Linked DNA regions of Homo sapiens: regions 1 and 2 are each linked to region 3. The links come from fine-mapping of genetic effects on gene expression. A gene starts in region 3. Each other region holds a variant in brackets. All regions are shown on one strand. Distances are from middle to middle.

What was found.
Region 1: its variant is fine-mapped to the expression of TRMO in whole blood (TOPMed, PIP 0.92).
Region 2: its variant is fine-mapped to the expression of TRMO in whole blood (TOPMed, PIP 0.98).

Annotation. Positions count from the first base shown.
Region 1 is chr9:97,944,113-97,954,141 of GRCh38, reverse strand. It overlaps a transcript of HEMGN not described here. Among named protein-coding and RNA genes, the nearest start is that of HEMGN, 11 kb to the right of the region's middle. The variant AT/T (reference allele first, on the strand shown) is at 4,724.
Region 2 is chr9:98,023,676-98,033,704 of GRCh38, reverse strand. It overlaps the pseudogene RNU6-918P. Among named protein-coding and RNA genes, the nearest start is that of NANS, 28 kb to the left of the region's middle. The variant T/G (reference allele first, on the strand shown) is at 3,897.
Region 3 is chr9:97,916,543-97,926,571 of GRCh38, reverse strand. It overlaps TRMO (tRNA methyltransferase O), which reads left to right and starts at 4,072. Exons shown (of 5, transcript NM_016481.5): 1 at 4,072-4,154. The coding sequence starts at 4,079. RefSeq lists an enhancer at 4,020-4,469.

The sequences.
Region 1 (10,029 bases), 28 kb before region 3:
CTTTGAAGAACTATATTATACCACAAACCTATGATTTCACAGGTGATATTTTTGGTTTTCCATTTACGATAATGATATGAAATTTTCACTGTATTTGCTTATTTATTTATTTATTTATTTTTGAGAGAGGGTCTTATTCTGCTACCTAGGCTGGAGTACAGTAGTGTGATCATGGCTCACTGCAGCCTTGAACTCCTGGGCTCAAGCAATCTTCCCACCTTAGCCTCCCAAGTAGCTGGGAACACAGGTACACACCATCATGCTTGGCTAATTTAAAAAAAAATTTTTTTTGGTAGAGATGAGGTTTCTCTGTTGCCCCAGCTAAAGTTTAATTTAAAGTACTTTTAGTAAAAATGAGTTTATTTGAAAAAAAAAAAAAAACTAAGTAAATAATAGCATAAAAGCACGTCAATACAAGAACATGGTAAAAATCACAAAGGTAGAGTACAAACAATTGGAAAGTTTGAGAACTTCTTTGTTATCCTGGGGGATGAGGTGGATTGACTTGTAAACAAAGGAGTTTGGAATGTCAGATAGGCGAAGAAAAAAGTAGACTGTCAGAAGATCTGGATTCCAGTTCCAACTGCCACTCAGCCTGTGTGACACTGGCTTCTCTCTGGGTCTCCATTTCCTTATCTACATAATAACTCTTAATGCTCTGCTTAGCTTTATTATTTGGTGGTTCTATTTCACTTTTTATTAATGAGATTATAAACAATCATGATAACAGCCAGCACATACGGTCTGCTTTGTGGCAGGCACTGTGCAGGATGCTTTCCGTAAGTCATCATTCTTATTCTCACAACAGCCTTAAAAGGTAGATATTATTATTATTATTTTGAGACAAGGTCTCGCTCTGTCACCCAGGCTGGAGTGCAGTGGCACGATCTTGGCTCACTGCAATCTCCACCTCCTGAGTTCAACTGATTCTCCCACCTCAACCTCCCAAGTAGCTGGTACTACAGGCATGCACCACCATGCTCAGCTAATTTTTGTATTTTTGGTAGAGACAGGGTTTCACTATGTTGGTCAGGCTGGTCTTGAACTCTTGACCTCAGGTGATCGGCCCACCTCGGCCTCTCAAAGTGCTGGGATTACAGGCGTGAGCCACTGCACCTGGCCAAAAGGTAGGTATTATAATGCCTATTCTACATACGCAGAGAGTTGAGCCTGGAAGATTTTAAGTAACTTGCCCAAGGTCACACACAACTTGATTTGAATGAACTTGGATCTGATTCCAGAGCCTGTGTTTTTTCCCCTAAGCCTTGCTGTATCCTAGTAGTTGATTCCTATTCACCCTTCAAAACTAAGCTCAAGATCATCTCTTCCAGGAGGGCTTCTTTGACCTCCTCTCTCCATCCTGTTTAGACATCTCTCTCCTCAGTGTTCCCTTAATTTTCTAAGTATGTCTTTTGCTGTTGTTGTTGTTATATTTGCCTTTGCGTCCCCAACACCCTGCATAGAATAGGTAGTCAACAAATCATTATGGAAACAGAGGGAGTGTGAAGGAGGGGGAGAAAGGGGAGAAAGGAGAGGGAAAGAATTACAAAAGAAAATATATTGCTACCTTATTTTATTAAATACTAAGGAAGTAGAATTGAGAGATAGGAGAGGAAGGTGGTTAAGCATATGGCCTCTAGATTCAAGCCACCTACCTTTGCTACTTACTAGGAGAGTGTCTTAGAGCACAGATTTAAAGCCTGTGCTTCAGTTGCTTCTTCTATAAAATAGAGGTATCAATAGCACCTACCTTAAAGACTGTTGTAAAGACTAATGAGTTACTATACGTAAAGTGCTTAGAGCAGTGCTTGAGATGTGATAAGCAAGTACTTTAAATATTGGCTATTATTATTTCTGTGAAATAAATAAAAGTGAATGTAACACTATTATATACATATAATGCCTCTTCATTTCCCAACTGATTGACTGATGGCAGGGTCTTTCCAAGGCAGTATGAATAAAGACAATTATACCCATAGGATGAACAATGTAATAGCCTTGTCTTTCCAATCCCATGGTAGCAGCATTAAGCACCCCATCTCTATGCTCAGAACATTTAGAAATATTGATATTAAAATTATCACACTGGGCTGAGTGCAGTGGCTCACACCTGTAATCCCAACATTTTGGAAAACTGAGGCAAGAGGATGGCTTGAGGCCAGGAGTTTGAGACCAGCCTGGGCAACATAGTGAGATGCTATCTCTACAAAAAAATGTTTTAAAAATTAGCTGGGCATGGTGGCATGTGCCTGTAGTCCTAGCTGTTCAGGATGCTGGGGCGGGAGGATCGTTTGAGCCCAGAAGTTAGAGGCTGCAGTGAGCTATGATTGCACCACTGCACTTCAGCCTGTGTGATAGAGCAAGACCTTGTCTCTTAAATAAGTAAATAAAGAAAGAACATTATCACACTGTATTATATTCTAAATCCAGGTTTACTTGCTGTCTACCACCCTCAATTAGGCTGTGAGTTCCTTGAAGGAAAAGACTCTCATTTGATTTCTCTCTCTGTCTCCAATTCTTAGCAAAGGGGTTAGTAAGAAATAAATGCTTAATAAATGTTTGCTGAGTGAATATAATAGAAAAGATGTGTACACATAAGCAATAAAATAAAAAATATTAGAGGTCCATTCCAAGATGGCCTAATAAGAACAGCTCTGGTCTGCAGCTCCCAGTGTGATTGATGCAGAAGATGGGTGATTTCGGCATTTCCAACTGAGGTACCTGGTTCATCTCACTGGGACTGGTTGGACAGTGGGTGCAGCCCACGGAGGGCAAGCCAAAGCAGGGATGGGTGTCGCCTCACCTGGGAAGTGCAAGGGACTAGGGGATTTCCCTTTCCTAGCCAAGGGAAGCCGTGACAGACTGTACCTGAAAAACAGTACACTCCTGCTCAAATACTGCACTTTTCCAACAGTCTTAGCAAACAGCACATCAGGAGATTATATCCTGTGCCTGGCTCGGCAGGTCCCACACCCATGGGGCCTTGCTCACTGCTAGTGCAGCAGTCTGAGATCAACCTGCGAGGCAGCAGCCCGGCATGGGGAGGGGCATCCGCCATTGCTGAGGCTTGAGTAGGTAAATAAAGCATCCAGGAAGCTTGAACTGGGCGGAGCCCACCAGTTCACTGCTGCAAGGCTTGCTGCCTCTATAGACTCCACCTCTGGGGGCAGGGCATAGCTGAACAAAAGGCAGCAGAAACCTCTGTAGACTAAATGTCCCTGTCTGACAGCTCTGAAGAGAGCAGTGGTTCTCCCAGCATGGTGTTTGAGCTCTGAGAATGGACAGACTGCCCCCTCAAGTGGGTTCTTGACCCCTGTGTAGCCTAACTGGGAAAAACCTCCCAGTAGGGGCCGACTGACACCTCATACAGGCGGGTGCCCCTCTGGGACAAAGCTTCCAGAGGAAGGATCAGGCAGCAATATTTGCTGTTCTGCAATATTTGCTGTTCTTCAGCCTCCCTGCTGGTGATACCCAGGCAAATGGTCTGGAGTGGACCTCCAGCAAACTCCAACAGACCTGCAGCTGAGGGACCTGACTGTTAGAAGGAAAACTAACAAACATAAAGGAATAGCATCAACATCAACATAAAGGACATCCACACCAAAACCCCATCTGTAGGTCACCAACATCAAAGACCAAAGGTAGATAAAACCACAAAGATGGGAAGAAACCAGAGCAGAAAAGCTGAAAATTCTAAAAACCAGAGCATCTCTTCTCCTCCAAAGGATCGCAGCTCCTCGCCAGCAACAGAACAAAGCTGGACAGAGAATGACTTTGATGAGTTAACAGAAGTAGGCTTCAGAAGGTCGGTAATAACAAACTTCTCCGAGCTAAAGGAGGATGTTTGAACCCATCTCAAGGAAGCTAAAAACCTTGAAAAAAGATTAGACAAATGGCTAACTAGAATAAACAGTGTAGAGAAGACCTTAAATGACCTGATGGAACTGAAAACCATGGCATGAGAACTACGTGATGCATGCACAAGCTTCAATAGCCAATTTGATCAAGTGGAAGAAAGGGTATCAGTGATTGAAGATCAAATTAATGAAATAAATTGAGAAGTTTAGAGAAAAAAGAGTAAAAATAAATGAACAAAGCCTCCAAGAAATATGGGACTATGTGAAAAGACCAAATCTACGTTTGATCAGCATACCTGAAAGTGACGGGAAGAATGAAACCAAGTTGGAGAATACTCTTCAGGATATTATCCAGGAGGACTTCCCCAACCTAGCAAGGCAGGCCAACATTCAAATTCAGGAAATACAGAGAACACCACAAAGATACTCCCTGAGAAGAGCAACCCCAAGATACATAATTGTCAGATTCACCAAGGTTGAAATGAAGGAAAAAATGTAAGGGCAGCCAGAGAGAAAGGTCGGGTTATCCACAAAGGAAAGTCCATCAGACTAACAGCGGATCTCTCAGCAGAAACTCTACAAGCCAGAAGAGAGTGGGGGCCAATATTCAACATTCTTAAAGAAAAGAATTTTCAACCCAGAATTTCATATCCAGCCAAACTAAGCTTCATAAGTGAAGGAGAAATAAAATCTTTTACAGACAAGCAAATGCTGAGAGATTTTGTCACCACCAGTCCTACCTTACAAGAGCTCCTGAAGGAAGCACTAAACATGGAAAGGAACAACCAGTACCAGCCACTGCAAAAACATGCCAAATTGGAAAGACCATCAATGCTATGAAGAAACTGCATCAATTAACGGGCAAA[AT/T]AACCAGCTAACATCATAATGACAGGATCAAATTCACACATAACAATATTAACCTTAAATGTAAATGGGCTAAATGCCCCAATTAAAAGACACAGACTGGAAAATTGGATAAAGAGTCAAGACCCATCAGTGTGCTGTATTCAGGATACTCATCGCATGTGCAAAGACACACATAGTCTCAAATTAAAGGGATGGAGGAAGATCTACCAAGCAAATGCAAAAAAAAAAAAAAAAAAAAAAGCAGGGGTTGCAATCCTAGTCTCTGATAAAACAGACTTTAAACCAACAAAGATCAAAAGAGACAAAGAAGGCCACTACATAATGGTAAAGAGATCAATTCAACAAGAAGAGCTAACTATCCTAAATATATATGCATCCAATACAGGAGCACCCAGATTCGTAAAGCAAGTCCTTAGAGACCTACGAAGGGACTTAGACTCCCACACAATAATAATGGGAGACTTTAACACCCCACTGTCAATATTAAACAGATCAACAAGACAGAAGGTTAACAAGGATATCCAGGACTTGAACTCAGCTCTGCACCAAGCAGACCTAATAGACATCTACAGAACTCTCCACCCCAAATCAACAGAATATACATTCTTCTCAGCACCACATCACACTTATTCCAAAATTGACCACATATTTGGAAGTAAAGCACTCCTCAGCAAATGTAAAAGAACAGAAATCACAGCAAACTGTCTCTCAGACCACAGTGCAATCAAATTAGAACTCAGGATTAAGAAACTCACTCAAAACCGCACAACTACGTGGAAACTGAACAACTTGCTCCTGAACGACTATTGGGTAAATAATGAAATGAATGCAGAAATAAAGATGTTCTTTGAAACCAATGAGAACAAAGATACAACATACCAGAATCTCTGGGACACATTTAAAGCAGTGTGTAGAGGGAAATTTATAGCACTAAATGCCCGCAAGAGAAAGCAGGAAAGATCTAAAATGGACACCCTAACATCACAATTAAAAGAACTATAGAAGCAAGAGCAAACAAATTCAAAAGCTAGCAGAAGGCAAGAAATAACTAAGATTAGAGCAGAACTGAAGGAGATAGAGACACACACATACACAAAACCCTTCAAAAAATCAATGAATCCAGGAGCTGTTTTTTTTTAAAAGATCAACAAAATTGACACACCGCTAGCAAGACTAATAAAAGAAAAGAGAGAAGAATCAAATAGATGCAATAAAAAGTGATAAAGGGGATATCACCACTGATCCCACAGAAATACAAACTACCATCAGAGAATACTATAAACATCTCTACACAAATAAACTAGAAAATCTAGAAGAAATTGATGAATTCCTGGACACATACAGCCTCCCAAGACTAAACCAGGAAGAAGTGGAATCTCTGAATAGACCCATAATAGGCTCTGAAATTGAGGCAATAATTAATAGCCTACCAACCAAAAACAGTCCAGAACCAGATGGATTCACAGCCCAGTTATACCAGAGGTACAAATAGGAGCTGGTACCATTCCTTCTGAAACTATTCCAATCAATAGAAAAAGAGGGAATCCACCCTAACTCATTTTATGAGGTCAGCATCATCCTGATACCAAAGCCTTGCAGAGACACAACAAAAAAAGAGAATTTTAGACCAATATCCTTGATGAACATCGATGCAAAAATCCTCAATAAAATACTGGCAAACCAAATCCAGCAGCACATCAAAAAGTTTATCCGCCACGATCAAATCGGCTTCATCCCTGGGATGCAAGGCTGGTTCAACATATGCAAATCAATAAATGTAATCCATCACATAAACAGAACCAATGACAAAAACCACATGACTATCTGAATAGATGCAGAAAAGGCCTTTGACAAAATTCAACAGCCTTCACGCTAAAAACTCTCAATAAGATAGGTATTGATGGGACTTATTTCAAAATAATAAGAGCTATTTATGACAAACCCACAGCCAATATCATACTGAATGGGCAAAAACTGGAAGCATTCCCTTTGAAAACTGGCACAAGACAGGGATGCCCTCTCTCACCACTCCTATTCAACATAGTGTCAGAAGTTCTGGCTAGGGCAATCAGACAAGAGAAAGAAACAAAGGGTATTCAATTAGGAAAAGAGGAAGTCAAATTGTCCCTGTTTGCAGATGACGTAATTGTATATTTAGAAAACCCCATCATCTCAGCCCCAAATCTCCTTAAGCTGATAAGCAACTTCAGCAAAGTCTCAGGATACAAAATCAATGTGTAAAAATCACAAGCATTCCTATACACCAATAACAGACAAACGGAGAGCCAAATCATGAGTGAACTCCCATTCACAATTGCTACAAAGAGAACAAAATACTTAGGAATCCAACTTACAAGGGATGTGAAGGACCTCTTCAAGGAGAACTACAAACCACTGCTCAGCAAAATAAAAGAGGACGCAAACAAATGAAAGAACATTCCATGCTCATGGATAGGAAGAATCAATATTGTGAAAATGGCCATACTGCCCAAGGTAATTTATAGATTCAATGCCATCCCCATCAAGCTACCAATGACTTTCTTCACAGAATTGGAAAAAAACTACTTTAAAGTTCATATGGAACCAAAAAAGAGCCCGCATTGCCAAGACAATCCTAAGCAAAAAGAACAAAGCTGGAGATATCACGCTACCTGACTTCAAACTATACCACAAGGCTACAGTAGCCAAAACAGCATGGTACTGGTACCAAAACAGAGATATAGACCAATGGAACAGAACAGAGGCCTCAGAAATAACACCACACATCTACAACCATCTGATCTTTGACAAACCTGACAAAAACAAGAAATGGGGAAAGGATTCCCTATTTAATAAATGGTGTTGGAAAAACTGGATAGCCATATGTAGAAAGCTGAAACTGGATCCCTTCCTTACATCTTATACAAAAATTAATTCAAGATGGATTAAAGACTTAAATGTTAGATCTGAAACCATAGAAAACCTAGAAGAAAACCTAGGCAATACCATTCAGGAGATAGGCATGGGCAAGGACTTCATAACTAAAACACCAAAAGCAATGGCAACAAAAGCCAAAATAGACAAATGCAATCTAATCAAACTAAAGAGCTTCTGCACAGCACAACTACCATCAGAGTGAACAGGGAACCTACAGAATGGGAGAAAATTTTTGCAGTCTACCCATCTGACAAAGGGCTAATATCCAGAATCTACAAAGAACTTAAACAAATTTTCAAGAAAAAAACAAACAACCCCATCAAAAAGTGGGCAAAGGATATGAACAGACACTTCTCAAAAGAAGACATTTATGCAGCCAACAGACACATGAAAAAATGCTCATCATCACTGGTCATCAGAGAAATGCAAATCAAAACCACAGTGAGATACCATCTCACACCAGTTAGAATGGCGATCATTAAAAAGTCAGGAAACAACAGATGCTAGAGAGGATGTGGAGAAATAGGAATGCTTTTACACTGTTGGTGGGAATGTAAATTAGTTCGATTGTGGAAGACAGTGTGGTGATTCCTCAAGGATCTAGAACTAAAAATACCATTTGACCCAGTGATCCCATTACTGGGTATATACCCAAAGGATTATAAATCATGCAACTATAAAGAAACATGCACACATATGTTTATTGCAGTACTATTCACCATAGCAGAGACTTCGAACCAACTGAAATGTCCATCAATGATAGATTGGATTAAGAAAATGTGGCACATATATGCCATGGAATACTATGCAGCCATAAAAAAGGATGAGTTCACGTCCTTTGCAGGGAAGTGGATGAAGCTGGAAACCATCATTCTGAGCACACTATCACAAGGACAGAAAACCAGACACTGCATGTTCTCACTCATAGGTGGGAATTGAACAATGAGAACACTTGGACACAAGGAGGGGAACATCACACACTGGGGCCTGTCTGGGGGTGGGGGGCAGGGGGAGGGATAGCATTAGGAGAAATACCCAATGTAAATGACGAGTTAATGGGTGAAGCAAACCAACATATCACATGTATACCTATGTAACAAACCTGCACGTTGTGCACATGTACCCTAGAACTTAAAGTATTTATATATATATGTATATATATGTATGGTAAGATGTATATATATATATATATATGTATATATATGTATGGTAAGATGTATATATATATATATATATATATATATATAAAGATGTGCAAAAAAGTTATGTAACATTCACTACAAAAGAGGCTAAAATCAAGCATGGTTATAGCTCAGAAAGGAGAGACCACATCTAGGCAATTAAAGGGAATAGAACAGAATGGTTAAATCCCTAAACTTTACAGTCGGACAGCCTTAGTTTTGAGCCCTAATTCTGCCACTCATGAGTTTATGTGATCTAGGGATATAACCTCTTTAAACCATGGTTTTGTTATCAGTGAAATGGGGATACTATTAGTTGGAAAAATGAAATGAGATACTGCATATAAAGTGTCAGCTACCCATTATGAGTTTGTAGAGTGACTAAAGTCTCATCATATCATTGTCATCGTTGTCATCATCATCATCATCAAAGGCTTTGTGATTAAGGCACTCACTATCTGGATCGGCAGACATATGACAGAAGACTGAACAACCAGAAGTTATGAAGATAGGTACTGTGGGTGTTAGAAAGATTCACGGCAAAACAGGGAAGGCAAGTGGTACTATTTAATGGAAACATTGGGTAGTTCCAGGAAAGTAATGGGAAAGAACATTGGGAAGTTAGACTTAAATGCCAGACTGGGAAATTTAGTCTTTATTCTGCAGGCAATACTGAGGCTTTACAGGATTCTAAACATGGAAGTGACTGGTTCAGAGCCAGCTGTAGCAGGAATATTCTGGATGTTTGTGCAGGATGGACTTGGGAGGGTGAGGGCAGATGAAAGCAGATAGCCACTTAGGGAGCTTTTCCAATGCTTCCAATGAGAAGTTGAGGCCCCTCTCTGGGATGGTGGTATAGGACAGGAAAAGATGGAATGAGCATGTGGGACACTGGGAAGAAAGAACTGGCAGAACTGTATCTAGCTGAATGTGAGAGACAAAGTGAAGAGGCAGAGTCAAAGAGACTTCTGAAGGCTAAGAACTAGATGGCCAGGCATGGTACTACTATTCTAACAGAAATAAAGCACAGGGAGCCTAGTTTTAGGGGGGAACATATATTTGCTTTTAGTTATGCTAAGTTTGAGGTGCAGTGGGACATCCAGCTAATAAGTGATAACCAAGAAACACTTGGAAATGTGATCTTAGAACTCAGACATATTTATTTAGAAGACATCTGCAAAGAGGTAGTAGCTAAAAGTATATAGTTG
Region 2 (10,029 bases), 110 kb before region 3:
GACATTGTGCCCAGCCTTGATGTTTGGCTATCCTTCCAAAGCTCTATCAACCAGGTTCTCTTCTCTCACGATTCTCTCTGCTAATGATGACTCTGTAGCCCGGAAATCATGAGGAATGGCAAGTCCATAAACTTCTGCCAACTGAGTTGCCCAGAGCTGCCCAGTTTCAACTCTTTTGAGACCCTTCCTTGGATTTTCTGAATCACCCCATAACACCCCAATAAACCCATCATTTTGATTTGTATAGCCACACCCACTTCCCTCCAGCCCCACCCCCTCCCTAACCTCTGCCAACCACTAATATTTTCCATTTCTATAATTGTGTCATTTTAAGAGGGTTTTTAATAAACAGAACCATGCAGTTCTGTAACCTTTGGGGGCTGGCTTTTTTCCCTCAGCATGATTCCCTGGAGATTCATCCTGGTTGTTTTGTGTATGGGTAGTGTGTTCCTTTTTATTTATTTTTTATTTTATTTTAATTTTTTTGAGATGGAGTCTCACTCTGTTGCCTAGGCTGGCATGCAGTGGTGTGATCTCAATCACCACAACTTCTGTCTCCTGGGTTCAAGCGATTCTCCCGCCTCAGCCTCCTGAGTAGCTGAGATTACAGGCATGCACCACCATGCCCGGCTAATTTTTGTATTTTTAGTAGAGATGGGTTTCACCACGTTGGTCAGGCTGGTCTCGAACTCCTGACCTTAAGTGATCCACCCGCCTCAGCCTCCCAAAGTGCTGGGATTACAGGCGTGAGCCACTGTGCCTGGCACATGTTTCATTTTTATAAGAAACTGCCAAACTGTTTTCCAGAGTGGCTGTATGATTTTACATTCTCACCAGACATATATAATTGATCAGTTTCTCTGCATTCTCACTAGCATTTGGTGTTGTCCTTATTTTTCATTTTTTCCATTCTGAGAGGAGTGCAGTGATATCTCATTGTGATTTTAATTTGCATTTCCCAAATGGCTAATAATAATGTTGAACATCTTTTCATGTGCTTATTTGCCTTCTGTATATCCTCTTCAGTGAAATCTCTTCATGTCTTTTGCCCATTTTCTAATTCTATTCTTGTTTTTTTGCTGTTGAGTTTTGAGAGTGCTTCATATTTCTAGTTACTAGTCCTTTTGTCAGGTATGTGGTTTGCAAATATTTTCTCCCAGTCTGTAGCTGTAGCTTGTCTTTTTATCCTCTTTACAAGGTCTTTTGCAGAGCAAAAGCTTTTAATTTTGACAAAGTCCAATATATAAATGTTTCCTTTTATGAATCATGTTTTGGGGGCTAAGTTTAAGAGCTCTTTGTCTCACTCTAGATCCCAAATGTTTTCTCCTGTGCTTCTTTTTTTTTTCTAAATTTTTTATAGAATTGTTTTTAAAATATGAAATGCTTCACAAATTTTTATATCATCCTTACATGGGGCCATGCTAATCTACTCTGTATCATTCCAGTTTTGGTTTATGTGTTGCCAAAGTGAGCAGAAAGTCTTATGGTCTTATGTTTACATTTTAGTCTGAGGTCTTTTTTTTTTTTTGAGACAGGATTTTGCTCTGTCACCCAGGCTGGAATGCAGTGATGCAGTCATAGCTTGCTGCAGCCTCCATCACCCAAGCTCAAGCGATCCTTCCACCACAACCTCTGTAGTAGCTGGGACTGCAAGTGTGCCCCACAATGCTCAACAAATTTTTGTGTTTTTTGTAGAGACAAGGTCTTGCCATGTTGGTCTCAAACTTCTGGCCTCAAGTGATCCTCCCTCCTTGGCCTCCTAAAGTGTTAGGATGACAGGCGTGAGCCACCACGTCTGGCACTGAGGTCCATTTTAAGTTAATTTTTGTACAATATATGAGACTTATGTCAAAGTTTTGTTGTTTGGTTGATTTTGGGGCCTATAGATGTCCAGTTGCTTCAGCACCATTTGTTGAAAAGACTTGTCTCCATTGATTGCTTTTGCACCTTTGTCAAAAATCAGCAGTCAAAAATAGTTGTGTGGCTCTGTTTCCGAGTTCTGTGTTCTGTTCCATTGATCTGTGTGCTATTCCTGGGCCAGAACCACACTGTGACCATATAACAGGTTTTGAACTTAGGTAGACTGATTTTTCTCTAAAATTAGCTAAATTTTAATAAACCATCTAAAATTATTCTAGCTATTCTAGTTCCTTTGCCTTTCCACATAAATTTTAGAAAAGTTTTGTCAATATTTGCAAGAAATAGATTTTGTTGGAATTTTGATAGAAAGTGTGCCAATATGGGAATAATTGACAACTTTATTATGTTTAGTCTTCCAACCCATGAACACAGTTTTACCTCTCAGTTTATTTAGATATTCTTTGATTTCCTTCATCAGCATTTTATAGTTTTCAGCATAGAAATCCTATACATGTTTTGTTAGATTTCCACCCAAATATTCCATGTTTTGAGTGATTATAAATGGTATTTTATTTTTAATTTTGGTTTCCATATGTTCATTAGTATATAGATTCTAGGAATTTTGTATGTGTGTATGTGTGTGTGTATGTGTGTGTGTGTGTGTGTGTGTGTGTGTGTGTGTAGATTCTTTGGGACTTTCTACCACATCGTATCATCTGCAAATACAGACCATTTTATTTTTGCCTTTCTGAAATGTGTGCCTTTTCTTTTCTTTTCTTTCTTGCCTGTTACACTGCCTAGAATGTTCAGTTGTATGTTGAATAAGAGTGGTGAGAGTGGACATCCTTGCCTTGTTCCCAATCTTAGAAAGAAAGCATTCCATTTTTCACCATTAAGTATAGTATTAAATGCAGGGTTTTGTAGATGTTCTTAATCAAATTCAGGAAGTTCCCTCTATTCCTAGTTTTCTGAGGGTTTTTGAGACGCTGAGATTTGTTTCTAATGGAGCTACAAGCTGTAGAGAACTTTATGAAATTGAATACATCCTAGTACAGCCACTTTATATCCAGACTGTTAAGAGTTTTGTGTTAGAGAAACCATCAACCTTATATGAGAAGATTATTCGTGTGTGTTAGAATTTGCATCTTAGAGAAAACCCTCATTTTAGAATTGGGTTGAGAAGAAGAACAAGACATTGGGTTTATTAATTGCAACTTTTGGCACAACGGTTAGAGCATTTATTTGCATCAAGGTTACATTACTGGGAAATTCATCTTACAGTAAAAAAGGTGAATAAAATATTTTTTCATAAGAATTAATGTAGAAGGGGTGGATATATTTCCAGACACCCACAGTCCAAACTTTCTATCTATTGACACAATTCACAAACCAATGGAATGACACAGAATGAATTAAGTGAGAAATAAAAGATCATATGATCATTTTACAGTGTTCTCCCTGGGATTCACGGAAGCATTAGGAAGCTACACTAGGTGCAGGTGCTACCAAAGTTAGCAGTCATTATAGTGTATCCCTGAGAGTCTGAGTCCAGTGAGGTTTGGGGTGGAATGGAAGAACCACCTGCCTCTGCCCCATCTCTACATCCCCTGCTGAGACTTAGAAACAAATACTGCACTCTGAGAATGCTCCAAAAACCTCCACCTTTCTTCTTTTTCCTTTTTTTTTTTTTTTTTTTTTTTTTTTTGTTTGGAGATGGAGTCTCACTCTCTCGATCAGGCTGGAGTGCAGTGGCACAATCTTGGCTCACTGCAGCCTCCACCTCCTGGTTCAAGAGATTCTCATGCCTCAACCTCCCACATAGCTGGGACTACAGGTGCGCACCACCATGCCTAGATAATTTTTGTATTTTTAGTAGAGACAGGGTTTCACCATGTTGGCCAGGCTGGTCCTGAACTCCTGGCCTCAAGTGATCTGCCCGCCTCAGCCTCCAAAAATGCTGGGGTTACAGGCATGAGCCACCATACCCGGCCAAACCTCCAGCTTTCTCAGGAGCTCTTGAGATGGTAAAGAAGGAA[T/G]GAAGTGGAGATCCTCCCCACTGTGAACTGCAGCATTCAGCAATCCCAAGATAACATGCCTCAACTGTCCTCCAGCCGCAGCTGCTCCCAGTTTACCAACAAGGTGAGTGCAAACAATGACTTATACAGAAATTGATCCCATTTTTTATTTTTTATTTTTTTTAAGAGACAGGGTCTCACTCTGTTGCCCAGTGTACTCCAGGCTGGAGTACAGAGGTGTGATCACAGTTCACTGTAACCTTGATCTCCTGGGTTCAAGGGATCCTTCTGCCTCAGCCACCCAAGAAACTGGACTACAGGTACATGCTACCATGCCCAGCTAATTTTTAAATTTTTTTTGTAGAGATGGGGATCTTACTTTGTGGCCCAGGCTGTTCTCAAACTCCTGGCCTCAAAAAATCCTCCGGCCTTGGCCTCTCAAAGTGCTGGAATTACAGATGTGAGCCACTATGCCCAGCCCTTTTAAAATTGTTTATTTTTATTTTTAGAGATGGGATCTTGCCACATTGCCTAGGCTGGAGTGCAGTGGCTATTCACAGGTGTGATTATAGCACACTGCAGCCTCCAATTCCTGGCCTCAAGCCATCCTCCCACCTCAGCCTCTTGAGTAGCTAAGATTACAGGTGCGCACTATCGCACTTGACCTGATCCATTTAAATAACTGACATTAAGTGGAAAAGGCTTAGTGTATGGAACTCAGATCTGCTGTGTCCCAACCCAGTGCTTGGAACACAGTGGGTATTTAGGGACCTTGAATGAAATAATGAGAATTTTATTAGCCATTCTCAATCAGAAATATGTAGTTCATTTGTAAATTGTGCACCCCCTCGCCATAAAATAAAATGTGGGATGGGATCAAGAATTTAAATCTTTGAAAGGCACTTCAGCCCTCATTTTGTCCAACCTGTATATGGAGCTAGGATCTCTTTCTGCAGTATTCACAAGTACCAACAGTCCCATCTTTGTCTGCAAAGACCTTTCCACTGATTCACAGGTCTGTTCTTTTGTTCCTTATTTTTTCTTTATATCAAACTTAAATTCTCTATCCTCCAATTCTCAAACCCCAATCTTAGTTATGCATCATGAGGCTTTTGGAGAAAACCTGCCTAATGGTCTATCTCCCTTCCTGTGTATTCAACCTCCCCTTTTCAGCTGGCATTTTGCATGAGCATTGAATCATGGTCAGGTCTTGCAGCTTGCTGGGGAAGCTCCTTACACCCCTTGTCCTTTCTTCACCTCTCACCTTCTCTCTCCTCTTCACAACCAATCCTCTTGAAGGACACTTATTATCTCCACTTATCCCTCCCACTGCCCAGCTCTCCTTAGTCTGGCCTCAACCCCAACCCGAACCCTTGAATTGCTCTATGACAGATTAGCAATGATGCACCTCAGACCTTATCTTACTGGTGGACTTGGAAGCATGGATGCATGTGACACCCTAGGCTTCTGAGGACCCTGTCTTCAGGGTCATCTGAACTGGCTTTAGGGGCTGGGCACGGTGGCTCATGCCTGTAATCCCAGCACTGTGGGATGCCAAGGTGGGCGGATCACCTGAGGTTAGGAGTTCAGGACCAGCCTGACCAACATTGTGAAACCCCGTCTCTACTAAAAATACAAAAATTAGCCAGGCATGGTGGTGGGCACCTGTAATCCCAGCTACTCAGGAGGCTGAGGCAGGAGAATCTCTTGAACCCGGGAGGCAGAGATTGCAGTGAGCTGAGATAGCACCATTGCACTCCAGCCTGGGCAACAAGAGCAAAACTCCATCTCAAAAAACAAACAGGCCGGGCGCAGTGGCTCACGCCTGTAATCCCAGCACTTTGGGAGGCCGAGGTGGGCAGATTACGAGATCAGAAGATCGAGACCATCCTGGCTAACACGGTGAAACCCCGTCTCTACTAAAAATACAAAAATTAGCTGGGCTTGGTGGTGGGCACCTGTAGTCCCAGCTACTCGGGAGGCTGAGGCAGGAGAATGGCGTGAACCCGGGAGGCGGAGCTTGCAGTGAGCTGAGATTGCGTCTCTGCACTCCAGCCTGGATGACAGAGTGAGACTCTGTCTCAAAAACAAACAAACAGACAAACAAAATTAGCTGGGCGTGATGGCAGGTGCCTATAATCCCAGCTACTTGGGAGGCTGAGGCAGGAGAATTGCTTGAACCCAGGAGGCGGAGGTTGCAGTGAGCCGAGATCACGCCATTGCACTCCAGCCTGGGCAACAAAAGCAAAACTCTGTCTCAAAAACAAACAAAAAACTGGCTTTAGGGACATCACTCTCCTGGTTTCTTCCAACTGCTCTGGCTCCTTCGTGTCTTGTTGCCTGGCTGGTTCCTCTTCTTCTGTCCTCCCTTAAAAAACAAACAACAGGCTGGGTACGGTGGCTCACACTTGTAATCCCAGCACTTTGGGAGGCCAAAGGGGGCAGATCACCTGAAGTCAGGGGTTTGAGACCAGCCTGACCAACATGGTGAAATATCGTTTCTACTGAAAATACAAAAATTAACCAGGCGTGGTGGCACATGCCTGTAGTCCCAGCTACTCGGGAGGCTGAGGCAGGACAACTGCTTGAAACTGGGAGGCAGAGGTTGCAGTGAGCCGAGATTGCACCACTGCACTCCAGCCTGGCTGACAAAGCAAGACTGTCTCAGCCGGGCACGGTGGCTCATGCCTGTAATCCCAGCACTTTGGGAGGCCGAGGTGGGCGGATCACGAGGTCAGGAGATCGAGACCATCCTGGCTAACACGGTGAAACCCCGTCTCTACTAAAAATACAAAAAATTAGCCGGGTGAGGTGGCGGGCGCCTGTAGTCCCAGCTACTCGGGAGGCTGAGGCAGGAAATGGCGTGAACTCCAGGGGGCGGAGCCTGCAGTGAGTGGAGATCGCGCCACTGCACTCCAGCCTGGGCGACGGAGAGACTCTGTCTCAAAAAAAAAAAAAAAAAAAAAAAAAAAGACTGTCTCAAACAACAACAACAAATCGTACCTTAGCGATCTGTTCTGGGCCTTCTTTTCTTCTCATTTTACACACTTTTTTCCTAGATGACCTGTCTATACCCATAATTTCAGTTGCCAACTGTTGTGCCAATGAATCCTGAAACCATAATTCCAGGACTTGCACAGAGGAGGATTCACTATCTGTTGAATAACAAAGTGGATGAGTCTGGGTACGGTGGCTCACGCCTTTAATCGCAACACTTTGGGAGGCAGAGGTGGGAGGTTCGCTTGATCCCAGGAGTTCCAGACAAGCCTGTATGACACAGTGAGACCCCGGTCTCTACAAAAAATACAAAAATGAGCTGGGCATGGTAGCTCATGCTTGTGGTCTCAGCTGCTTGGGAGGCTGAGATGGGAGACTCACCTAACCCTGGAGGTAAAGGCTGCTTGTGAGCCAGATGCCACTGCACTGCAGCCTGGACGACATGGTGAGACCCTGTCAAAAAAAAAAAAAAAAAGATGAAACCTGTAACTTCAGTCAAAGCCTAGATGCTGAGACTCATTCTTTTCTCTTGTCCTGTTCCCAGCCTGCTCCTCTCCCTCCTCCATTTCCTGTCCTAGGTGCCAGATCTGAGTGCCTGCCTTGCATTTCCTCTCTCCCTAACCCCAGACCCTATTAACCTCTTGCCAGCCTGTCCACTTCTCTAGCTCAGGCCCTCTTCATTCCTCATTGTGACTGCTGCCTCTAGAATAGATTGCTGCCTATTCTAAATGGTCTTCCTGCCTCTAATCCTGCTCCTTCCCCAATTTCTTTCTTTCTTTCTTTTTTTTTTTTTTTTTGAGACAGAGTCTACCTCTGTTGCCCAGGCTGGAGTGCAATGGCACGATCTCGGCTCATTGCAACCTCTGTCTCCCGGGTTCAAATGATTCTCCTGCCTCAGCCTCACAAGTAGCTGGGATTAAAGTTGCCCACCACCATGCCTGGCTATTTCGTGTGTGTGTGTGTGTATTTTTAGTACAGACAAGGTTTCACCATGTTGGCCAGGCTGGTCTTGAACTCCTGACCTCAAGTGATCTGCCTGCCTCAGCCTCCCAAAGTGCTGGGATTGCAGGTATGAGCCAGCACACCCAGCCTCCACGTGCAATTTCAAAAAGAAATTTTGGTCCCACCACTTGCTTGTTTAAGGTTGTTCAAAGACCCCAAGAGAGCTTTTTTTTTTTTTTTTTTTGAGACGGAGTCTAGCTCTATCGCCCAGGCTGGAATGCAGTGGAGCGATCTTGGCTCACTGCAACCTACACCTCCCAGGTTCAAGCAATTCTCCTGCCTCAGCCTCCCAAGTAGCTGGGATTACAGCCGCCCACCACCACGCCCAGCTAATTTTTGCATTTTTAGTAGAGATGGGGTTTCACCATATTGGCCAGGATGGTCTCGAACTCCTGACCTCGTGATCCACCCATCTCAGCTTCCCAAAGTGCTGGGATTACAAGCATGAGCCACTGCGCCTGGCCCCGAGAGCTCTTTCTGGCCTGCCCCACTCCTACCTCCCCAACCTCATCTCTCATGAGCATCCTCTTCACTCTTCATTCCTCCCATGCTGAGTTTCTCTCAGCTGTCTGGCCCCCAGCCCTTTGCACAGGATGGTCCTGCTCTCTGAATGCTCTTCTTTTCACATGTTGCCTGGCTCCCTCCTACTCACTCCTCAGGTCATTTCCTCGGGAGCTCTGTCCCTGCCCTGCCCTTCCTCAGTTCGTGTACTACCCGATGCTACGGAACTTACACACTGCATTGCAATTACACATTTACATAAGTGTTTTGCTCAGTAGCCTGTAGGTTCTGTGTGGGTAGGACTAGAGATTATTTCTATCCTGTTCATCTTTTTGTATTCTCATATATAAATATAACTCATCACCTCCTGACATTTGAGCCCTTCTGCTGATCCAAGTAAACAGTACTTAACACAGAGCTGTGTACACAGTAGATGCTCAGTGTGTTGAGTGGAAGAATCAATGACTCTTCCCCAAGGAGAATGGCATCATTTCTAACATGGATGGCTGGGCTGTCCCATGTGATTTGAGCAGTTTTAGATTTACACCAGGAGGGAGTCCGCCATTACCTCTGGGTACTTATTGTCCTCCCTTTCCAGAACTGTCCCCACATTAAGCATAGACATGAGGAATGGAGCCTGCATTATTAAAATAGGGCTTCCTTCTTTATTGTCTGAGTGGCCTCCAGGGAAGTCATGATAGGGGACAACCGTTGTCAAACTAAAAAAAATTCACTGGGGCCTAAAACATCACCAGCCTAGGTCCAGGACAGAGAGGTGGGGGAGACAAGGCTCATTCATGTGCATAGCAGAGCACACAGGAAGTTTCAGGGGACTGAGCCCAGTGGCTATAGCAGTATGATGGTGACATCACAGGGCTGGCAGCTAAGGCTGTATCAATAGGGATGTAATGGAACAAGCAACAGGATACCCCTGATAGACACTGATTGATAGAGCCAGAGTTTGTCTCAAAAAAAAAAAAAAAAAAAAAAGGCTGAATTTGGCTGGGTGTGGTGGCTCACATTTGGAATCCTAGGACTTTAGGAAACCAAGGTGGGCAGATTGCTTGAGACCAGCCTGGGAAACATTGCGAGACTCTGTCTTAAAAAGAAAGAAGCTGAATTAAATCCATTCTTCTTTAGCTCCATTGGGCAAAATTACAGCCAAAAGTGTTACAGGAAATTGCATAAATAAGAGCCTTTTAAAAAGGATTTGTTTACCATATTAGTAACAAGGCTCATGATAAAAAAAATACAGCTGCCTTACTATTTTATTCTTATTATTTTTTGAGACAGGGTTTCATTTCTGTCACCCAGGCTGGAGTGCAATGGCTTGATTTTGGCTCACTGCAACCTCTGCCTTCTGGGCTTAAGTGATTTTCCTGCCTTAGCCTCCTGAGTAGCTGGGACTGCAGGTGCACGCCACTGTGCCTGGCTAATTTTTCTATTTTTTGTAGATATGGGGTTACACCATGTTGCCCAGGCTGGTCTTGAACTCATGAGCTCAAGCAATCCACCTGCCTCGGCCTCCCAAAGTGTTGGGATTTATAGGAGTGAGCCACTGCGCCTGGTGTGCCTTACTATTTTAGAGATTTTAAAAAATCTGTTTTGTTTTGTTTTGTTTTGTTTTTTTGAGACGGAGTCTAGCTCTGTCCCA
Region 3 (10,029 bases):
AAGACGGAAAGTATTTGCATAGATGAGGATAGCAGCATTACTGTATGTGACAAAGAGAAGGGTGAGTTCAAAACATGTTCAAGAGAACTGCAGGCAAACTATGGTTAATGTAGAGTCCATATGAAATAGTAGTAGGCTTGCATGCTGAAAAGCTCATATTACTAGAGCATAGAATATTTTGCTTACCTAACCAAGAAATATATCACTTGTTAAAAATGGGGAATGAAGTCAGATTTTTGAACAATGGAATGGCAATTTCACTATTTTAGGAATATGGTAAATATGGTGATAATGGTAAAGATTAACTGAAAACGACAAGAGACCGGGGCAGGAATAGAAGCTGTTCTGGATGGGAAGATGTCTGAAAATCTACCCTGGTATTTTTTGTTTTCACTTTTCCTTCTGTTATTACAGAGGACTAAGGATATTTTTGCAAATAAAGTTTCATTCAGCAAGAACACACTTGCACAAGCTTTCCATATAGACACTGTGCTAGGTACTAGCTATATCAAAGAACAAGACAGGGTCACAGTCCCTCAGGCATTCATGGTATAATGAACATGAGAGAGCAGTGGTTCTTTCAACCCTTCTGGTACATTAGACTCACCTGGGAAGGTTTCAAAAATACATATATGTCCAGACTTCTCCCCCAGGGATTCAGATTCCCCCATCTAGCTGATGTACAGGCATAGGTATATTTATTTTTTAATTGTTTTATGCTTCAAATAATAGTTTTTGGAGGAATAATTTTAGAATTACAGAAAAGTTGTCATGATAGTACAAAAGTTACTATATACCTTTCGCCCAGTTTACACCAATGTTAACGTCTTACATAACCATGGGCCATTTGTCAAAACTAAGAAATCAGGATAGTTACACTACCATTAACTACAGACATTATTCCGTTTTCATGAATTTTTCCACTAATGTGCTTTGTCTGCTTCAGGGTCCAATCCAGGATATAGAATTGCATTTAGGATGTTTTTATTTTAAAAGCTCTCCTGACAATCCTAAAGTGGAGGTAGGGTTGAGAACCAATAGTACAGTGGGATGTTACAATATTGTTTCCCTCCTATCTGCCTACCCCCTTTTGTGTGTACATTAAATTTTTTACCATCAGGATGTATTCATTGCACAATTATTCATACCCCTATTATATTTATTACACAACATACTGAGGGCAGGGCAGCACAACCACATAATAGTTTCGTCTCTTTTTTTTTTTTTTTTTTTTGAGACGGAGTCTCACTCTGTCGCCCAGGCTGGAGTGCAGTGGCACCATCTCGGCTCACTGCAAGCTCCGCCTCCTGGGTTCACGACATTCTCCTGCCTCAGCCTCCCGACTAGCTGGGACTACAGGCGCCCGCCACCACGCTTGGCTATTTTTTTTTTTTTTTTGTATTTTTAGTAGACGGGGTTTCACCATGTTAGCCAGGATGGTCTCAATCTCCTGACCTCGTGATCCTCCTCGGCCTCCCAAAGTGCTGGGATTACAGGAGTGAGCCACCGCGCCCGGCCACAACCATATAATAGTTTCTTACCTCTCAATGACACTTCAACATTTATACTTTCACATAAACTATTTTATTTGATCTGTACAAAAGTATGTGAAATAGGCCAGGCGGTGATTATCACTCTCACTTAAAGATGAGGGAATAACATAGAGGGAAGGTACTCACCCAAAGTCACATCTGACTTCCTCAGTGCTTTTTTTTCTTCTTTGGAATGTGCTTCTGTCTCAATTTCACCTGCCAGAGTGGGCCAAAATTAGAGGAAAAAAAAGAGTAAACTGAAGTCTCAAGTTCTAACAGCGTTGCATTAAGATGGACCTTAAGAGATTTGCATACGTACAGTGCACAGGAGCACAAAGATGAGATGGGGAAGGAGAGGGAAAGAGGAATGCAGTACATTAGAGGAAGCAGAATTTCTCTCTCCACCTCTCGGGACCCTTTCTGCTTGCCCTCTTACATCACTCCCTGCATTCACACACCACTTCTGCTTTCTCACCATTCTTGTTTAAACATCACTGTGCATCTAAAATTCTTCTGGCGTTCTTCTTGGCTTAGAACCTTTAGGTGACAGAATTAAAGTTTTGCAAGAATCCTTCTAGCTTGACTTTGTGCTGCCCTCCTCTCATGTTAGGTTAGAAACCCATGAACCATATGATATTATAGCCAAAATGATGTGTGGGACGGTTCAAAGCTTTAGTTGATTCTCAAAGGGGTCCTTCACCCAAATGAGAGGTTAAGAATCACTCTACTGAGAAGTGTTTCTCAAAGTAGTACAAGCTGAAGACTACATAATTATTTAGGTCATTTCTTTAAGGCAGATTTCTAGGTCTTACATCTGGAGGAGAGGTTAAGTCTTATAAACTGCAAATAATCACATATAATTCCAGACAAGATAATAAGAACTTCAAATCATAGACTAAAAAATGTGCTGCATATTTAAGTTCCCGTTTTCAGTCAAGAGAAATTTTACCTATAAAAGAAGTAGCAATCTATTTCCCTAGTATATTCAAATCAGCTTTGCATTTCAGTACTTGTCACACTTGGTAATTACATATTTTTTTGTGTGATTAACAACGTCTACCATGCCCTCCAGGAGGGCAAATATCTCTTTAAATCTAGTCTTTCCACAGATAAAGCGGGACTATCATTTTTAGCAACACCACCATCTAGTGGCAAGCGCAGTAATTCTGGCCCAGTTTTATAAACACACACATACACACACACGCGCGCGCGCTATATATATATAAAACAATGATTTTCAAACTTGTTTCTCCAGCTGCACAGAGCTGTCCCTCCTAAAAAAAATGGCAGCCTTTTCCAAGTTGTCCTGTAAAAATGACCTGCCAAAAGACACTATATGAATTTGATCAGTTTTATCTTATTTTTTAAACCACAATCTTTAATTATTTGGCTCCTCCTGCTGGTTATTTTCTACCAGAAATCAATGACAAATGGACAGACATGGAAACATCTTTTCATGGTTGTTAGACTTTTCAATCTGTGACTCATATGCTTTTGAATATTTTATACTGCAGATGTTAACAGATAAAAAGATAAAAGATTTTAAAATTTCTCCCAGAAAGAGAATTATATACAGAGAAACTTACTAAAGGTGAGAGACAGCATTACAAGTGGGTAAAAGATAGGCTATCATTGCAAGGACAACTGGTCATTGCATGGGATTAAATGATTCTTGTTAGCTCTTAGCTTCTCAGAGCTGTCCAGAAACGACAATAATCCCCACAATGCACATGGCATGTTGACTCTTATAATTCCATTCTCACTTCAGTTCCGGTAAGGTGTGGAGCACAAGAAACAGTTCCCACTCCTTAACCCCTAGCACATAGTAGGGCTCCTTTATAACATCCACCACACTTGAAATAAGACTTATTTGGGGTTGTTTCTGACAAAGCATAACTTATATTATGGAAAAATTTCCCACCACCCAGGGATAATTTTTTTTTTTTTTTTTTTTTTTTTTTTTTTTTTTTTTTTGATACGAGGTCTCGCTCTGTCACCCAGGCTGGAGTGCAGTGGCGCGATCACGGTTCACTGCAGCCTCAAACTCCTGGGCTCAAGCGATCCTCCCGCCTCAATCTCCTGGGTAGCTGGGACCACAGGTGCCTGAGAATTCTTAACATTTCTTAACGTCCAGTCCTTCCGCTCTGTGTTAATTACATATACACATCCCTTAAAAATTAGGGTCATACTGGACGTATAGGTTACTTAATAATGTTTCGAGAGAGACATAGTTGCGAGTTCTTCATGGAGGTGTGTTCCCTCTCAAAAAGCGCGGGAAGCCGGAGTCGCATTCTACCCTAGGAGGGCGGGCAACTGTAGCAGCTGTGTGTAAGATAAACGAGATTGGGGTCCCGGAGGGGCACACGCCCGGGATAGGGTTCGAAGCCCCATGGAGAACTCAAAGCTTCCCTCAACGCCACCCTGCGCGCGCACATTCTCCTGGGTTCGCGGGACCTCGCCGGCGAGGCCACTGCGCATGCGTCAGGCATGGAGAGCGGAAGCGGAAGGTTGAATGCGTCGGGTGGGCACCTCAGCAACCAGTAGCCATGCGCGGCTTGGAGGAGTCGGGGCCTCGGCCTACAGCGACCCCGTGCGGCTGCGTTAAGCCGGCTCTGGAGACAGGTAACTTCCAACACCGGCGGTGCCACACTCTGGAGAGGTTTAGGCCCAGGCAGCGGACTTCGTTGCCGAGAGGGGTGTAAAACGCACGATCTGGAACTGACGTGCGTCATTCTTTTACCTACGGCGAAGGCACGGGTCACGTGCTGCGGAGACCACGTGATGTGCTTTGGCGAGCGGGATGACGTCATCTGGCTTGTTCCGCTTTGTTATAAGACTTGTACTGTCTGCGTAGTCTTGGCTCAGTAGCTGGAGCAGCTACGTGCAGCGTAGGGGCTTTTCTCTTAGGGGTTTCCTTGCCATAGCGTATGGGAGATGGTGTTAGGCGGGTTAGGAATTAATAAATGCCATAGAGAGGCATCCTGCGCTGTAGGAATGAGGACAGAGAAGGGGGAAAGTTTCTGGGGGAGAAAATAGTTTTAAATTGGGCCTAGAAAGACAAGGCATGAATTTGTTTCTCTTTACTCACACGTTTTCATAGAGGAATATATTAGCTTTAGAAACTGGAAAGCAAATGGAAGAAAATTAAAATAACCTGCCAGAGAAAGCCATTGTCAATATCTTGGTGTCTACCTTCCACGCTTGTTTCTTTGCATACACACTTGGAAAGTGAGGTACTATACGACCTGTTTAGTAACGTTAAAATAATTTAAAAAAAAATCTTAACAGGGCAGTTAATGTTAATTATAACACTTTGGGCCGGGCGCAGCGGCTCATGCCTGTAATCCCAGCACTTTGGGAGGCCGAGGTGGGCGGATCACGAGGTCAGGAGATCGAGACCATCCTGGCTAACACGGTGAAACCTCGTCTCTACTAAAAAATACAAAAAAATCAGCCGGGCGTGGTGGTGGGCTCCTGTAGTCCCAGCTACTCGGGAGGCTGAGGCAGGAGAATGGCATGAACCCGGGAGGCGGGCTTGCAGTGAGCCGAGATCGCGCCACTGCACTCCGGCCTGGGCGACAGAGCGAGACTCCGTCTCAAAAAAAAAAAAAAAAAATTAACACTTTGTTTTGTTATTATTAATTTTTGTAGAGGCAAGCTCTCACCGTGTTGCCCAGGCTGGTCTCAAACTCCTGGGCTTAAGCAATCCACCTGCCTTAGCCTCCCAAAGTTTTGGGATTACAGGCATGAGCCACTGCAACCAGCCTAACGCTTTGTTTTAGATATGTGCTCTAATTTAACCAGCTTCCTGTTACTGAGCATTTAAGTTATTGCCAGTTTGCATTGTTCTAAAAGAAAGCTCTTGAAGCCGAAATGTTTGTGTACATTCTAAAGTTTGAACTTTGTTAAATTTCTTGGAAGTGCTATTACCTGGCCAAATGTGCTTATTTAAAAAAAATTGTTGCACACTGCCGATTACAGGTCTCATATTTTGACAGGAAGGAAAACGCAGAAGCCAGGGCTCAGAAGTCTACACAGTATAGGTTTGGGGAGCTAGAAGTCTAAAGTGTTGGATGGAACAGGGAGGTGGGAACCTTTGGATTCTGATTGTGAAGAAACTTGAGTACCAGGCTAAGAAATACAAAGTCTGTTAACAGTGGAGAATATGAAAAGTTTAAAGTTAAAGAGTTAGCATAACACAAGAAACTCTAGGAGTGTTGAGGATTCGTCTAGAGTATTTTGAGAAGGGGAAGAACTTGCAGTGGGGACAGAAAGCCTAAGAAGGGTAATTTAATAGTACAGGTGGAAATGAAAAGGACCTGAACTTATTTTCAGAGCAAGACGTGTAGACAATCCTGTACACAAAAAACCCCACATTGATTGCTTGCTGGCTTTTTACTTATTACACAGTTAATACAGTTGTAATGTTTAAATGAGGAAAAAGCCTGAGCAGGGACTTTAAAAAGCACTCCTTGCTGGGCACCTTCTATTTTATTGGATGCTTTCCTATTTTATTAGTACTTTTACAGCTTTCCAAAGTAGGTAGTATCCCTTGTTTTATAGATGAGAAAACGGATTCAGAGAGAGAAGCTAGTTTTTCCCATGGTCACACAGCTAGTGTAGTGGCCCTGTGTTGTTTTTATCCTTTCTCCATTCTGAAACCAGTCCTAATTCTCTCATGCTCCTTTGAGGAACCACTTCTCCCCATTTCCATGAGGTTCTTGTGCTGGTTTTTGTCATACCTGTGCTTATTTATCTCTATCCCTGCAAAGGCACCTAGCTAGAATTGTTGATTTACTTGTCTTTCTCTGTCAATGTACTGGAAACCCTTGAGGACGAGAACTGGTTCATATTTGTACCCCAAGTCCTTAGCACAGTGCTTACCAAAATGGTAGGTGTTTACTGTTCTTTTGGGTTTTTGTTGTTGTCGTTTTGAGATAGGCAAGAAGAAGAAGACCAGAATTCCCCTTGGCAAACGGTGTCAGGTCTCTGCTTCAAATAGCATTTATATTTCATAGCATTATCCCCAGGAGGGCACAGAGAATGTATAAATATGTCCCAGAAGAGTTCAGACGTACTAGGATATGGATATTTGGTATTTTGAGAGTGGTCCCAAACATTTTAGAGTAGCAGAGTTAGAAGAACTCTTTCAAAGTAGCTCTTGAGTATACTTCCAGTTCATTGCTAATCCAGTGTTGTCTTGCTTATGTTCTTAAGGAGATGCACAAAGAGGATAGAAGTAAATCTAATTAGAGGATAGAAGTAAATCTAATTGGCAGCCACTTATATTTATCATATCATATGTGTAATCTGTGAAAAACAGGCATAGACTGATTTAGTGAAGTGATAAATCAGCTATAATATAAATTCCTAGGCCCCAAATCAAAGAGTCAAGGGCAGAAGTCTTTGATTACTTTACTGCTGACAGGACATTTCCCATGATATTGAAGCATGGTGTGATAGTCTCCTCAACTATTAAATTCCACTGTAGTAAGAGTTCTTGGTTTGTATCTTTTCTCCAAACTTAACACAATGTCTGGCAATTGTAGACACTTGGAAAATAGTGTTTCTCTCTTTCTTTTCTTTTCTTTCCTTTCTTTCCCTTTCCTCCCTTTCCTTTCTTTTCTTTCCTTTTTCTTTTCTCTTTTCTTTTCTTTTCTTTCTTTCTTTTTTTTTTCTTCTCTTTGTGGAGCAGAGCTAACTCATGGGCAGTGTGCCCAGAGTATCAGCCAGAAAATGTTTCTTGAACAAATGAAAAGAAGACACAGGGATTTTGTGGCTGGGCTAGGGGTCTTTTTTGGCCATTTATCTTCCAGACATAAAGAAGATATGCCAGGTCGTTTGGCCTCAGTTTCTTCATTTTTAAGATGTCTACTATATCTGTTCCATAGAAGCATGGATGAGGATTAAAAAGAAAAAACAAAAAACTAAAAACAATGCCTGTAAACATACTTGAACAAAAATTAAAGTTGTCAAAAACATACAGAGTATGTATGGATCTTAGCCTCATAATATTGAGAGAGAAAAAGCAAGTCTGAGAAGACAACTTACAGTTTGGTGCCAGTTTTTATAGATCTTAAAGACAAAAATCAATGAAATACTGTTTAGGCATGCATGTACATGTAACAAAATCATTCTCTAAAAGGAAGTGAATGATAAAGATCAAATTCAGGCTTCTGTTTATCTCAGAGGGAAAAGAAGGGTGTGAGGTAAGAGAAAAACAACCTAAAAAGAACAAGTCGTTAGTAACGCTCTAGTTTTTGGGATGGGTGGTGTATACACGGGGTTTCATCATATTATGCCGTATAACTTACATGTATGTTGCATATGATATTTATATATATCAAATAAAGTAGCTTCTAGAAGTGAAGAGTAATGAAAGATACTGTGAGGGACAGCCCCAGACCTATAGTCTTACTGCTTATGCTGGTAGGGTAGATTTAAGGAAGCAGGAAATAAAGTCTGAAGTGTCTTTATATCATCTCTCAGAAATTGATAACGCTGTCATGAAATGTGAGAATAATAAAAAAGTTATCAATAAATTCAAAGTGGTAGCCATGGAAACCTTGGACTTTATATTGATAGTGTCTGGCCATTTTTTTTCTTTTGAAATATGTTATTACTTAAAAAAATTGTGATTTTTTTTTTTTTTTGAGATGGAGTCTCGCTCACCTAGGTTGGAGTGCAGTGGCGTGATCTTGGCTCACTGCAACCTCTGCCTCCCAGGGTCAAGTGCTTCTCCTGACTCAGTTTCCTGAGTAGCTGGGACTCCAGGCATGCACCACCATGCCTGGCTAATTATTTTTTTTTTTTGTACTTCTAGTAGAGATGGGGTTTCACCATGTTGGCCAGGCTGGTCTCGAACTCCTGACCTCAGGTGATCTGCCCACCTCAGCCTCCCAAAGTGTTGGGATTACAGGCGTGAGCCACCGCGCCTGGCCTAATTTGTGATTATTGAAAAAACTTCAAATATTATAGAAATTACGAAGTTAAATTTAAAGGTAATTAAAAAATCTCACCACCCAGATTAACCACTGTTAAAAAAATTGGTGAATATTGGCCAGGTGTGGTGGCTCACACCTGTAATACTAGCACTTTGAGAGGCCGAGATGGGCAGATTGCTGGAGGTCAGGAGTTTAAGACCAGCCTGGCCAACATGGTAAAACCCCTTCTCTACAAAAAAAAAAAAAAAAATTAGATGGGCATGTTGGTGCGTGCCTATAATCCCAGCTACTTGGGAGACTGAGGCACGAGAGTCGCTTGAGCCTGGGAGGTGGAGATTGCAGTGAGCCGAGATTGTGCCACTGCACTCCAGTCTGGGCAACAGAGCAAGACTCTGTCTCAAAAAAACAAACACAAACAAAAAATAAAACACAGCATGTGGTGCATATCCTTCCAGATAGCTTTCCAAACATACCTGTATGTGTTTAAGAAGGTAAATATGTAACAAATTTCCATAAGTGGGATTATATTATATATATTATTATTTTACTTTTTCAATTTCCACATTAATCAGTTTAGACATATATGATCTTTTCTTCTATGCAACATGAATTTTTTGAGTACCTACTCCGTTGCAGGCAATGTACTAGACAATGAGAATGCAGCGATAAATGAGACAGAAAAACTGCCCACATGGAGCTTACATTCTAGAGGGGCAGTAGGCTACTGGACCAAGCCTAACTTGAAATTTACCTTGCCTCTAGATATTTTAGCACTATGAGCTTATAAGCTCTCTTTATTGCTTAAATTAGTTTATTTCATATGTTCTGTTGCTTTCAATTGAAGATATCCTTACTTATGTATACCCAGTGTTTCCTCATCTTTCATTATTCTCTGCCTCTTATTTCATACTCCAGCCAATCAAAATAGCTTGTTCCCTGCATATGCTATGACATTTCTCATTTACTTTTGTGTACACTCTCTCCTCTATTAGAAATACCCTCATAGGCCAAGCACTATGGCTCACGCCTATAATCCCAGCACTTTGGGAGGTTGAGGTGGGTGGATCAAGAGTTCAAGACCAGCCTGACCAATATGGTGAAACCCCGTCTCTACTAAAAATCCCAGCACTTTGGGAGGTCAAGGTGGGCGGGTCAGGAGTTCAAGACCAACCTGACCAATATGGTGAAACCCCATCTCTACTAAAAATACAAAAAAAAAAAAAAAAGTTGAGCGTGGTGGTGGGCGCCTGTAATCCCAGCTACTGGGGAGGCTGAGGCAGGAGAAATGCTTGAACCCGGGAAGCAGAAGTTGCAGTGAGCCGAGATCGGGCCACTGCACTCCAGCCTGGGCAACACAGCGAGACTCCATCTCAAAAAAAAAAAAAAAAAAGAAAGAAATACGCTCATAGCCCTGGCCAGAGTCACATGACTTAGTATTGGTAGCATAGAATTTTAATTATGGTCATAGTAGGTATTCTGAAAATGCCCCCTTACTTTCATTCTTTCTTTCTTGGACCATTATTCTTTCTAGTATATCTAAAGGGATATTACTA